Regions from separate parts of the Homo sapiens genome. Here regions 2 and 3 are each linked to region 1. Evidence: fine-mapped expression QTL. A gene starts in region 1. Each other region holds a variant in brackets. All regions are shown on one strand. Distances are from middle to middle.

Region 1 (4,241 bases):
GTATGAATCCAAACTTTGCCATTAATTAGCTGTGTGACCTGTAGAAGTTACTCAATCCCTCTGAGCTTCCGTGTCATTTATAAAATAGGGATATCACCATTAACCTTATAGGGTTCTGGTAAAGACCAAATGAAATACTGTACAGTGATATTCTCACCTCCATCATTAAATTCCAATACATTTTAGTTACTGTTTCTCCCATTTCCTATATCTGAATATCACCAAATGGATAAAAGATCAGGCTAACAATGAAAATAAACTTTAATCTCTTACCTAAGGTTAGTTCTTTAATATGCTATGTTTATATAGGTGGCCCTTAGTTTGAATTTAAGAAATGATAATTCATGTTGTATCCAAGTTTATTGGCATTGTCATCTATAACACCTGTGATTCCTAGACCATGAAAGGCTTTACAAAGCTTTGGTTTTGATGAACTGAAGGTACATTTATGAATTTTTGTTCCGATTAAGCATTAGCAACTTAATGTAGGTTTTCATGAAAAATAAAGTAGGTAGATTATGGATTGGCTTTCCAAGATGTATAGTTGTCTTAGATACATTATCATTTGGGACAGAAAGGAAATTAATAACATCCAGTTAATTTTTTCATGTTAGGGTTAATTGCCTCTTAGGAATTTTGAGAGGGTGCAGGGTGTTTCAAAATTGGAATTGGAATTAAAAGAAAAATGCATTAGGATCGCAGTGGAGCAAGGGTCGCGAAACCATACATTTACAGATAACCACCTTCTACAATTTTAAAAACATTTTCAAAGATTAGTCTTTATAACAATCCTTTGAGTAGGCAGGTCAGGTAATCATATGTCCACCTAGGAGGGGTAAAAAAGGAAGCTCATGAATTATGAGGGCTTACTCAGCTCTTCTGACTCCATCACTCTGACCATTAAAATGAGGCAGCCCTAAACAAAGCCAAAATCTCCACGAGAGAGTTGAATAAATAACACATAGTATAGTAAGGAAAAAAAAAAAAAGCAGGAAGTAAGAAGGTTAATACATTTGGGCAAAAAGAAGGAAACCAGAAAAGAAAATTAGTTCAGTGATTCAAAGGGAGATGGATGTGCAATGCATTAGTCCATGCGTCTTAAAAGGGACTGGACAATGTGAACTGTGTTTCCTGAGGGAAGAACCATCTCCCCCTTTCTCCTATCCAGCGGTTGGCTAAGTGCAACTCCCCTAAGCTCTCTGAGCACCCTGCATGTATCTGTATTTTAGCATTCACCATCCTTTTGACAATTTCCATTTAAATAACAGCTAAATTGAAAACTCCCCTAGGATGGGGACCACTCTTACTAATTTTTGCACACAGAACAGTACTTGGTCCTACCAGGTGCTCCATAAATGTTTTCTGATCTTAACTTTAACAATTTTTTCCATATTCTTTTCTATTTCTAACATTTGCTGATTAGACCTGGCTTTCCACTCCCAACATCGCTACTAACTAGCTGGCCACTCCTGGACAAATAAATAATACAAGTTTTCTGAAATTCATCTATTATAAAAAGGTGTTGAAATAGGCCTTTCTAATATTCTTTCCAGCTCTAAACAGCTTCCATGTTACAAATCAGGGTTTATAGATGGAATTACAGGTCTTCGAGAGGAGAATAGCAAATGTGCTTAGGCGAAGGGGGTGGGTGGAAAATGAACGCTTATCTTGGCACAGCAGTTTAACGAGAGGAGAAGCAAAGTTGATTGGTAGGCCAAAATTTTGAAGAACAGGAGAGGGAGGCGGGGGTGAGGGGAGTGGGGTAACAGGACTTAGAAGAGGTGGTGGTGAGAAAAAGGGGGTAAGGCAATCGATAGCTAGGTTCACCTCGATCTGTCAGAGCCCAGGGATGAAGGGATAGAGAGTCTACGGAGATAAAGTGGGCAGCTATGCTAGTTCCTGTGGATGCTAATAACAGGAGCCCCTCGTTTCTTCCTGATCCTGGAATTATTCTACAAGGAGAGGAAGGTGCTATGAAAATAAATGATGCCTCACAGGCGACAGGTGTCCCAGCGTCCCGAGACAGGAGCCCGCTGTCTCCCGCTGGAGGGGAGACTCTTGCAGGAAAGAAAGTCCGTTCTGTCGCCACCGGCCAGCTGTGCCCGAAAAGTCCCAGGAAGAAACTCTCGCTCATCCGCGGCGAGCGGATCCCGGGCACAGGGGCTGGAGGCCGACCCGGTGAGAGTGCAAGGTCTCGCGACCACCGACGACAGCAGACAGCGAGTCGGGCCTTCCCATCTGAGGCCAGCTTCAGTACAGGCCTCCAAGCCCGGGCTTGTTTTGGCCGCGACGTCACTTCCGATTTCTTCTTTCGCCTTCTGGCTAAAAAACGTTCCGCAGCAATGCAGCTGAAACTTTCGGGTTTTCTTTTTTTTGTCCCTCTCTCCTTTTTTTTAATATTTTTGTTTTTGCCGCCTTTACGCTCCGAGGCCCATCCTGCCGGAGTACTACACAGACAGGGTCATTTCAGTTGACGGTTCTGGGTCACCAGAGCAGAGGAAGCCCCAATTTCGCCCTCCGGTCACACCTCCTACTCCAGATCGCCCCGCCCACCTGACCCGCCTCTGCGCCGCCGGGCTGCGTGAGTCTCATGAGCGTGCTCTGGTACGTCATCTTCGCGCGACGTTCGGTTCGCTGTGTGTGTCGCCGGCTCCTTGAGGGTCCATGTGATTTTTACGCCAGTGCTGCTGAACTGTGCAGGGTAGGGAGCTGGCACAGTCCGATTAATTGTCCTTGGGTCGAGGTGTCTCGTCGGACCCTTTGGGGCTCAGTGGAGGTAGGTGAAGGCGGCTCCCATTGAGGGAAGCCCACACTCACACCCGGCCTTCCTGTGTTAATCTGGCATGCTCTTCTGGGGCTTCCCAGGCTATATAGGAGAGTGGCCAAATTCTTTAACCGGCTCAAGTTCCCCTCAATTAAGCTTCGACCTAGGTTCTTCTCTGCGATTACACCCTTTCCTGTCCACCGTTGTTAGTTCCCGGAGTAATCAGCAACTCTCCAAGGCAATGGACACATTTCCATCTTTGCCTTTGCTTACGAGGCTCCCTCAGGTGAAGTGAACCTAATGGAGTTTTAAAATATTTGGGAGATAAAATCAGCAGATCTTGTTAACTATTTGGATGTTAGGAGTGAGGAAGAAAAGGACACGTCAAGGCTGAGTCTAGGTTAATATCTGGTGCCAGTCACCAGCCAAAATGGAGTATATTGGAGTAAGCAAAGGCACAGACCATGTCTTTATTTCATTCACCATTATAGCCCCAGTGCCTAGAGCAGTGTCCTGCACATTGGTAGGTACTTTAATGAACAGAAGAGTGTTCCCAAAGACCAGTGAAATACAATCATTGGTCATTGTATTTCATTAAAGCACCTTTTAAATATATGTTACACCTATTTATCGTGGTGTTACTAATGTAAAGTTTTCAGGCTTTTTGGAATAGATGATGAGCAGCACCTCTGGAATCATTTACCTGATAACATTGAATCTCTTTTGCAATTGAGTCGTTCTGGAAAAATGTTTTGGCTTGATTGCATGTTATTTAAAAGTTTTATCCTATTCTGCCACTTTAGTGTTGAATTTAATTTCAGGACTGCTTTATTACAGTTTTCTTTCCTACTGTTTAAACCTTTTAAAGTAAATTTAATTTTAAGCTTCTACATTAGAATATTAGCTTTGTGTTTCTTACTTCTTGGCATTTTTAGGCTTTCAGGAAATCAAATCCGTAACTATAATTGTTATAGATTAAATGTCATCTTAAACTTGGTTTCAGGAAACTTGTATTTGCAGTTTCACCTTAATATTTCCTGTTGCCAAAAAATGGACACTCAAAGCCAGCATGATCCTTTTTGGTTTGGCTACTGTAAGGCTGTGCTAGATTTATTCCTAAGTGTTGTAAAATGGTTGGCTAGGTGTGAGAACCTTTGTGTACAGCTGAATAGATGGTGCGATATGATAGCCTTCACTTTAATTATTCCTGCTTCCTATAGATTGCCTTTTCTGGGTTAGAATTAAATGGCTTATTGGTCTCTAATCTATATACTTCCACACAGACTTTTTAAAGAAAGCAGAGTGAAAATCAACTATGTGTACAAGCTTATAATATGTATATAAAATATTTTATTTTTCAGAATTAAGGCAGAGTCACTGTAATTATTTCTAATACCAATTCCAAAATAGTGACTCTTGGACAATAGTGCAATTATATGGAATTATGGCTGGTTATAAGCCTGTAGCTATTCAGACA
Region 2 (4,241 bases), 50 kb after region 1:
TCCCCTTGACTGCTTGTTGTGATTCCATTGGCAGCTTCTACTCACCTCCTTTATCTGTATCTCCTTGCACTTCACAAGACACAACTAATTCTGAAGACCTTAAATTTTAGAAGATAAAGACAAGGAAGTTTATATCTACAACCTTTATGTTGATGACAGCTGTGAAGGGTTTTCATCTGTCACATGTCTGTCTCCATCCAGAGCCCCCAGGAACCCCACTTCACCTGTTATAATAGGTTTCCCACCAATAAGTCCAGGTAGGGCAGAAAAAAGAGAATGTAAAGGTAATAAAGAGGACTTTCCTGTTAGAAAAGTTGAAGTTTGAATGGGAGCTTATCCTTTCCATATTAAGCAAGACTATTATGTTCCTGGCTCCTCAGCTATAGAAAAAATTAACATAATTATATTGAGGCAGAAGGTTGAAAGGGAAAATAGGAAAAGATAAAATAATATGAGTCTGTATTTTCTGGAGATAAAGTCTTAATAGGGCCTTTGGAAGATAGATGTCCCATCTTGCCCCAGACCCCAGGGATAAATTACTAAGCACTTCCTGTAAATTGAGGGATAGAAGTATCACTGAAGCCAACATTGTTTATTCAACAGTTTCTATGTTTCTTCCACAAGATCTTTCACCAGGCATCAGGGAATCAAAGATGACTGAAACGTGCTTTTGACCTTACTCAACCCTCTGCTGAGGGAGATGGAGGCAGAAACAGACTATCAGAATGCCACATGGTAAGTTTGTGATCAAGATATGCACAAAGTAGGAGGTAAGTATAAATAAAGATGCCTAACCCAGCTTGGCATGGGTGGGGGTGTTGGTGAAAGTTTTCTGGGAGGAGAGCCTGAGCTAAGGCTTAGGAGATCTGTAGAAAAACAGTGGGAACTGCAATACTGTTTTCAGAATTTATGCGGCTGAGCAGACCAAAGAGATGGGAGAGCTGGGGTTGGTGGTGAAACCAGGTGGATCAGGGTAGCAGTGGTTTGCACAGTGATTTGGGTTGGTTTGGCCACAAAAAATATGACTCCTGAGATCTTCTGACACTCACTGCATGAGGCCATAGAGGATATTGGTTAAGAATATGGGCTCGCCTGGGTGCGGTGGCTCATGCCTATAATCCCAGCACTTTGGGAGGCCGAGGTAGGAGGATCAATTGAGGTCAGGAGTTTGAGACCAGCCTGGGCAACGTGGTAAAACCCTATCTCTACAAAAGGTACAAAAATTAGCCGGGTGTGGTGGTACGTGCCTGTAGTCCCAGCTACTCAGTAGGCTGAGGTGGGAGGATCACGTGAGCCTGGGACGTGGTGGTTGCAGTGAGCCGAGATGGGGGGCCACCACTCTCCAGCCTGGGTGATAGAGCCAGAACATGTCTCAAATAAATAAATAAATAAAAAGAATATGGGCTGGGTTTGAATCTAGGCTTTAGCACCTGTTAGTTTCTTCCTTGACAAAAAGGAGACACCTCTAGTATCTAACAGTGTTGTTATGAGGATTAAAGGAATTATGTTAGAGCTTAGAAGTGTGCCTGGAATATGTTAAGCATAAGTACTGGTTGCCATTATTGTGATTCTGAGATTGTGATGCATAGTACAATTCCTCGCAGGACTGGGTGACTAAGACCAGTGGCCAATGAGAAAGTGGCTCCCTAGAAGCCATTGCCAAGAGTAGCTCTTCAGAAGGCAATTCAAGTTATGCTGTTATTTCCCAAGGGCAGAGTCAGGGAGGAGTCTAACAGAATTACCTGGGGAGCATTGTCTGGGATTCACCCTGGATCGGCTGAATCAATATCTCCAGGGGTGGGGCCCAGGCATGAGTAATGGGAAAAGGCTTCTGGTGATATGTCTTCCCAGGTCTCTGGCCTGACAATGTCACTGGTGCTGCCTAGCCTTGGGATATCAACTGGACAGGGGAATTCATTTAACATAGATGTGTGCTGAGAACAATATGCTGCTCTGTAGTTTTTTTAAATACACAGAAGAAATTGTCTTCCTTTCCACCCTGCAATTTAATGCTTCAATGTGCAAATGTCAAGAGATAGGGAGAGACAAAAGGGAAAATGATAGGAGCAACAGAAGAGTTTGCCACCAAAGGGGATAGTAGGGTGGAATGACCTGGGCTTAGAAATTTGACTTCGGAAAAGCAAGAGATGGTCTGAGGAAGAATTTGCAGCAGGCTTTGTGCATCTTGCATCACAACCACCCATGGAAGACACTGAGTAACATGGTTAGCTGCAAATGGGCTCCCAGGAGGAAGGGACGTGAGATGGGACTGGCCAGGCCTGAACGCATCTCCACATCTGGTACTGGGAGGGAATGTCCCATGTGGGTGTTTGGCAGGAAACGCTCTAAAACAAGCACTCTTGCCACAGCATAACTAAAGGTATCTTCATTAATATAAAACCTATTTATTAAACTATGAAACA[TG/T]GAAAAAAAAAAAGCAACAATTGTTAGGTGTTTTGAATCTCAGAATTTAAAACGCCCCACAAGGAGAATTCTACAATGTCACTTGCCATCCTTGGGGGTGGTGTAGTTCCTATAATTTCCCACCTGGCTCTGGGGTAATACGATAGGCCAGTGACATTCATTCCACCAGCATGGGCTGGCCTGCATGCTGCTGTTTCTTAGAGCTCTCCTGAGGCCTGCCAGGTGACCTTCTCTTTGCTGAAATGACCCTTGCCAGGGCATTCAGTAGTGTGTTAAGACACTGGGGGTTCAGGTAAAGATACGTGAGACTTTTTTTTCTATTCCATAACGTTGTAAATAATTTTTAAGTTGCCTTTAATTTTTAAGAATTATAGAAGGAACACATTCACATTGTAAAAAACAAACAAACAAACAAACCTGCCCTTAATGACCTTGCAATCCAGCAGGGAAGATGTAATAATAACAAAAGGCCATTTCCTAAGTTTCTGCTGAGTAGTAGGCTCCAGTCTTCACCACAACCTCGGAAATGCCTCTAAGAGTCATACGATGTTCTTCATTTTAAGGGTGAGGAAGGTATGTTGTAGAGAGTTAAGGGAACTTGCCAAAGGAACATAGTCAAGCTAGCAAGTAGAAAGTTAGGTCTGTCTGATGGCAAAGTACTTGCTGCCTTTTCTACTCAATTACCTTGCCTTTTAACCAGCAAATGATAAGTAACTAAAGCATGATGTGATAACTGTTATTATAATAGTATCCCCAAAGTAATATGGGCATATGACTGAGAGGGGAGAAAGGCTGATTCTGGCACCATACACAGACTAGGAATCTACCCTGTATTGGTTCAAAAGTGGTGTATAGTTGAGAGTTAATACATCTCTCCAGAAAATTGAAAAAGGTCGTAGAAGGTTGAAAATGAGTGAATGGAGCAGGGCCAATCAATCAGCTACTTTTAGAAGAAAGTAGCTATTAGAGTTTTTCTTGTTTGTTTTTCAAGCTTGTTTCTTCTATGCTTTTTAAACTCTAAGTTTATTCATTTTTCTACTTTTTTTTTTTTGAGGTGGAGTCTCGCTCTGTTGCCCAGGCTGGAGTGCAGTGGTGCAATCTCGGCTCACTGCAACCTTTGCCTCCCAGGCTCCCAGGTTCAAGCAATTCTCCTGTCTCAGCCTCCCAAGTAGCTGGGATTACAGGTGCTCGCCACCATGCCCAACTAATTTTTTTTTTTTCTGTAGTTTTAGTAGAGACGGGGTTTCACCGTGTTGTCCAGGCTGGTCTTGAACTCCTGACCTCAAGTGATCTGCCCGCCTCGGCCTCCTAAAGTGCTGGGATTACAGGCGTGAGCCACCATGCCCGGCCCTTTTCTACCTATTTCTTCATAGATAATAAGTCATTTGCTAACTACCTATCCTCCTCTTTTAAACTTAAAATCTTTTGTCTGCCTTGTTTTCAAAACCTTCATAGTCTAACATAATTATTAGGCAGACATAGTGAACAGCCCTTTTTCTTTACTCCTAGAAATCCTGTATTAATAGGAGCAGCAATGCACTCAGCTTAAACAGCTACATGTTTCCAGCCCCCTGTAATGGATAGGGGTAGCCAATGAGATGTAAGTAGGAGTTGGGTGAGGCTTCCAGGGAAATCCTGTAAAGGAGGCTGACTGGACCGGGAGGTATGCCTCTTTTCCCTTGCTGTTTCCTCCTTTCTACTGTGTGGAGCATAGTTATGATGCCTGGTGCTTTAACAACTATCCTGCAATTATGAAGCTAACTTGAAAATGAAAGCCAGTACTAGAGATGGTAAAGCAGGAAGGTAAAAGGAACGTG
Region 3 (4,241 bases), 24 kb before region 1:
CACCATGTTGGCCAGGCTGGTCTCAAACTCCTGGCCTAAAGTGATCCACCTGCTTTGGCCTCCCAAGGTGCCAGGATTACAGGCATGCACCACTGTGCCCAGCTGCCAGAAGGATTATAAACCAGCATGACCCAGGCACCTGGAGATGCAGAAAATCTGACCCCCCAGTCCTGTGGCCTTGAAAAATGTGCTCAGGTAAGGATCACAGAAAATGGTCTTCGGCAGACAGAAAGATTAGTGCTGGATTTTATTATTTTGTAAATGGTTTAGCCTATTTATAACTTATGAAGCAGAAACTAAAAACAGCTTAAGTATATGTTTATTTTAATTGGAGATGGGCATATGTTTATGTATGCCAATAACTTTTTGAAAGTATGTCATTATAATGAAACTATTATAAAGATGTGCATATGGGTGCATGTTGTATATATGTCAGCAGACACATATTGACATTTATGCAAAGTTGGTTATTGGAAGTGACTGGTAGTAGATATGACTGGGCTGTTCTTGTGCATAATCTTTGGTCCCTGGAAACCCTGAAGGACTGAGCGTGACCCAGGCAGTGGGTTTCTTCCCCATCAGCTTGGTTGCTTGGCGTTTATCTGCAACTGTCTTCCAAGTAAAGCTTCCCAGGAACTAGAGTCTGGGAAAACCTTACTGGGACTTTGGGTGCCTTTAAGCCATTGGCTATGACAGAGAGAAGTTGTTACTGGAAGGCTCTTGTGACATAACTGAGGGGTTCCTGCTTAGGAGGGCTCTTTTATTTATTTTTGAAAAAAGTAGAAATGTCACCTTTTTTATGATTCAGATGATCTGAAGGCACATCCTTTGCAGTGGAAAGAGAAGAGACTCCTGTTACCTACAATAGAAGGAATAGCCTAGACTGCACTGAATGCAGTGACTCATTGTGGGTTACAGGACATACTGGAGTAAATGCGCCTTACTGGAGTGAGACTTCAGTGACAGAGGGTTGAGTTGAGACTCGTCATCTTGTCTCATTCCTAGGAGGTGCTCAGTGAATACTTATGAAAAGGAAGGGAGGGAGTGTTGAGGGAGGGAGAGAGGGAGGGAGGAAAGCGGCAGGGTCTGAGCCTTCAGGAAGCAGGTGTCAGGCTCAGCTGGAATAATTTAGCCCTGCCAAAGATAACCTGGAAGGATCTTTTCAGAAAAAGGACAAAGCATTTCCCAAAGTAACTCATTTCTCAGTATTTGGAGGGTTGCAAACTAGGCACAACTTGTGTCCTTGCCTGGCGGTCAGTCTGGGCATGATGGATGAACCAGTGGAATGGGTGGCCCCAGGGCTCTGCTGATGGAGGCTGTGTTGTATGGGGTGTAGGCTCTTCTCAGGGAAGGTTTGTGGAGGATGTTGAGCCAGTGAGGGATGGTGGGAGTGTGTGGTGAATGTCTCTGATGCTGGTCCCTCAGAGAGGAGAGAAGGAGGAGAGGAAGAGGGAAGAAAGGAAAGAGGGAAGGAGGAGAAGAGGGGAGGGGACATCACAGCAAACATGACCAGAACCAGAGGGACTGTCTTCACAAAGGACTCCTGGTGCTCAGGTGGCAAAATGGGACCCAGAGTCTAGGGTAGGGATATTCTCCTTATTTCTTGTAACTGTCAACATTCTTAGCATCAGAAACCAACTCTGGTTAAACCAAAAAGGAACTGACTGAAAAGCACCTGGTTCACAGAAACATGGGGAAATCTTGAGAAGCAGGCAGGAGAAAGGGTCAGGCAGCTGCAGGTCCACAGCCAAAATCTTGCCAGTGAGGACATGGCCGTCACATTTTGTGCAGCATCTGCTGCTCCCGGAAACCAGTTATTGCTGTAGCCACTCTGACTTCATTTCTCATACTGCTTTGGATCAGCAGCCACCAATTCAAAACTCTGGGGCTAGCGTGTCTGACTGGTTAAGCCCAGATCACATCCTTGTACTCTAGCTTCAAGGGAGGTGGGAAGAGGAAGGCTTGGGTGGAAAGACTGGACTCTTTGGCTTTCTTAAAAGGAGGTGGAGAGTCAAAAAGGCCCACGAATGTCCACCATTTTCCTGCTCAGTACCATGTGATTTCCCAAAGGAAACCCACACTGCTTAGCCAATTTGAGACGTTGTTTTGGGAGCACTGGAGTACTGGTAAATTTAAACACACACACACACACACACACACACACACACACACACACACACACACACAGCCTGCTCTGAAAACATTAACATAAAGCTGAAAGATAAATTGGCTGTTGGAATAAACTTCCTGGAACACGTTGTTTCAAGATGAATCAGCCAGCCATCTATTTACTTACCTTTATGCACAAAAGGA[A/G]AAGAGAGAAGGAGGGTGTTCTAAGACGATTGTGCTTAACAAAGAACAGAATGGTAGTTTATACTTCTAAAATTACGAATCTCAGTTTGAATAGAGTTATCCATGACTACCAGTCGGCATTCAAGGTTTTTAGAGATTAGAATCTTATTTTGCAGAAATTATATCAAACTTTGAAAGCCAGATAATCTTGGAAAAGGACTTTTTACAGACAACCTCACAAGGAAACTGTTATGGTTACTAAATATAAAACAGGATCGCATTTTTGTAAATATTTTAGCCTCCAAATTTAATGAAAATTTTAAAAATTAGGGCTAGCATTTCATCTTTCCTGCTGGCATCAGTAGCTCTTTTCTCTATTGTGTGCAGTTACGAGGACTTGCCTTTTCAAGCCACAGAATTCCATTTGCTGGAATTGAGTCCAAAAGCTCAGGCAGGCCTTAAGGAAATCTATGACTTGGTAAACTCATAAGGGACTCTGAGGCTGTACTGGTCTCCTCTTATAAAACGGATGTTCATAACCCCCTGATCCTGAAGTTATTCACAGAAGCTCATCTTTCTTGGGGGAATTTTTAATTCCCTATTCTCATTTATATACTTTGGGTAGGGGGCGGATTCTAATTGACTTAAACGAATTAGCATGTCCCCCCTTGAGCAAACTGATTAGATCAGGGATGGGCATATGATCATGTCAGTGTGTGTGTGTGTGTGTGTGTGTGTGTGTGTGTGTGTGTGAGAGAGAGAGAGAGAGAGAGAGAAACAGAGACAGAGAGGCAGAGACAGAGATAAAGAAAGAAAAAATCCCAGGACTTTGGCAGGAGCCCCCAGAAGAGAGAATCTCTCTCTCTCCCTCTCTGGAAAGCATAGAGTGAGAGTGAGGTCTTGCAGTTGCTGGAGCTGATGGATGAAGCCAACCATGTGGAAAGCAGAAGACAGGGAAATAAAGAAATGAGATCTTTCAGTTGCTAGATCAGGTCTCACCTAACATTGTAATCACTTTTTAATTTTGTGAGCCAATAAATGTCCTTTATTATTTATTTATTTTTGACACAAGGTCTTGCTCTGTTGCCCGCCTGGCAGTGGCAGGAATACAGCTCACTGCAGCCTCAGCTTCCTGGGCTCAAACAATCCTCCCACCTCAGCCTACCAAGTAGCTGGGACTACAGGCACATGCCACCATGCCTGACTAATTTAAAACCATTTTTAGGCCTGGTGCAGTGGCTCATGCCTGTAATCCCAGCACTTTGGGAGGCCAAGGCAGGTGGATCTTCTGAGGTGAGGAGTTCGAGACCAGCCTGACCAATATGGTGAAACCCTGTCTCTACTGAAAATACAAAATTAGCCGGCCATGGTGGCAGGTGCCTGTAATCCCAACTACTGGGGAGGCTGAGCCAGGAGAATCGCTTGAACCTGGGAGGCAGAGGTTGCAGTGAGCCTGAGCCAAGATCATGCCATTGCACTCCAGCCTGGGCAACAAGAGTGAAACTCCGTCTCAAAAAACAAAAACAAAGCACAAACAAAAAAAACATTTTTTTGTGGATGCAGAGGTCTCACTATGTTGCCCAGGCTGGTCTTGAACTGCTGGACTCAAGTGATCTTCTTGCCTTGCCTCCCAAAGTGCTGAGATTACAGGAGTGAGCCACCACACTAGGCTCATTTGTTGTTTAAATGAGTTGAGTTCTATCTCTTGTAATTGAATAATCTCTCATTGATGGACTGAAAAAAACACTTGCAACTAAATAGTCCTTAGTATCTCAGTATGTAAGTATTAAAATATACCTTAGCATAAAAAAGTATTTCTTAGTATATAATTTTCATGGTATACAAAGAATTTTTAAAATTAAGAAAAATAATAATAACCTAATAGAAAGCAAAGAACAAAAACACTTAAAAAATGGCTAATAAATATGTGAAAACTGTTCTATCTTGTT

Alleles and levels. Alleles are on the strand shown, and positions count from the first base shown. SD is a standard deviation of normalised expression in the study named.
As copies of TG replace T in region 2, the expression in monocytes after LPS of the gene that starts at base 2,503 in region 1 goes up (moderate effect, 0.66 SD a copy in Quach 2016).
As copies of A replace G in region 3, the expression in stomach of the gene that starts at base 2,503 in region 1 goes up (small effect, 0.19 SD a copy in GTEx).

The links. PIP is the estimated chance that this variant, and not a neighbour inherited with it, causes the effect.
Region 2: its variant is fine-mapped to the expression of ANKRA2 in monocytes after LPS (Quach 2016, PIP 0.95).
Region 3: its variant is fine-mapped to the expression of ANKRA2 in stomach (GTEx, PIP above 0.99).

What each region holds. Positions count from the first base shown.
Region 1 is chr5:73,563,137-73,567,377 of GRCh38, forward strand. ANKRA2 (ankyrin repeat family A member 2) reads right to left here and starts at 2,503. Exons shown (of 9, transcript NM_023039.5): 1 at 1,996-2,503. UTP15 (UTP15 small subunit processome component) reads left to right here and starts at 2,607. Exons shown (of 13, transcript NM_032175.4): 1 at 2,607-2,776; 2 at 4,126-4,241. The coding sequence starts at 4,209. RefSeq lists enhancers at 1,763-2,317, 1,897-1,946, 1,967-2,176, 2,187-2,746, 2,318-2,872.
Region 2 is chr5:73,613,553-73,617,793 of GRCh38, forward strand. No RefSeq gene overlaps it. Among named protein-coding and RNA genes, the nearest start is that of ARHGEF28, 11 kb to the right of the region's middle. The variant TG/T (reference allele first, on the strand shown) is at 2,424.
Region 3 is chr5:73,539,444-73,543,684 of GRCh38, forward strand. No RefSeq gene overlaps it. Among named protein-coding and RNA genes, the nearest start is that of ANKRA2, 24 kb to the right of the region's middle. The variant A/G (reference allele first, on the strand shown) is at 2,314.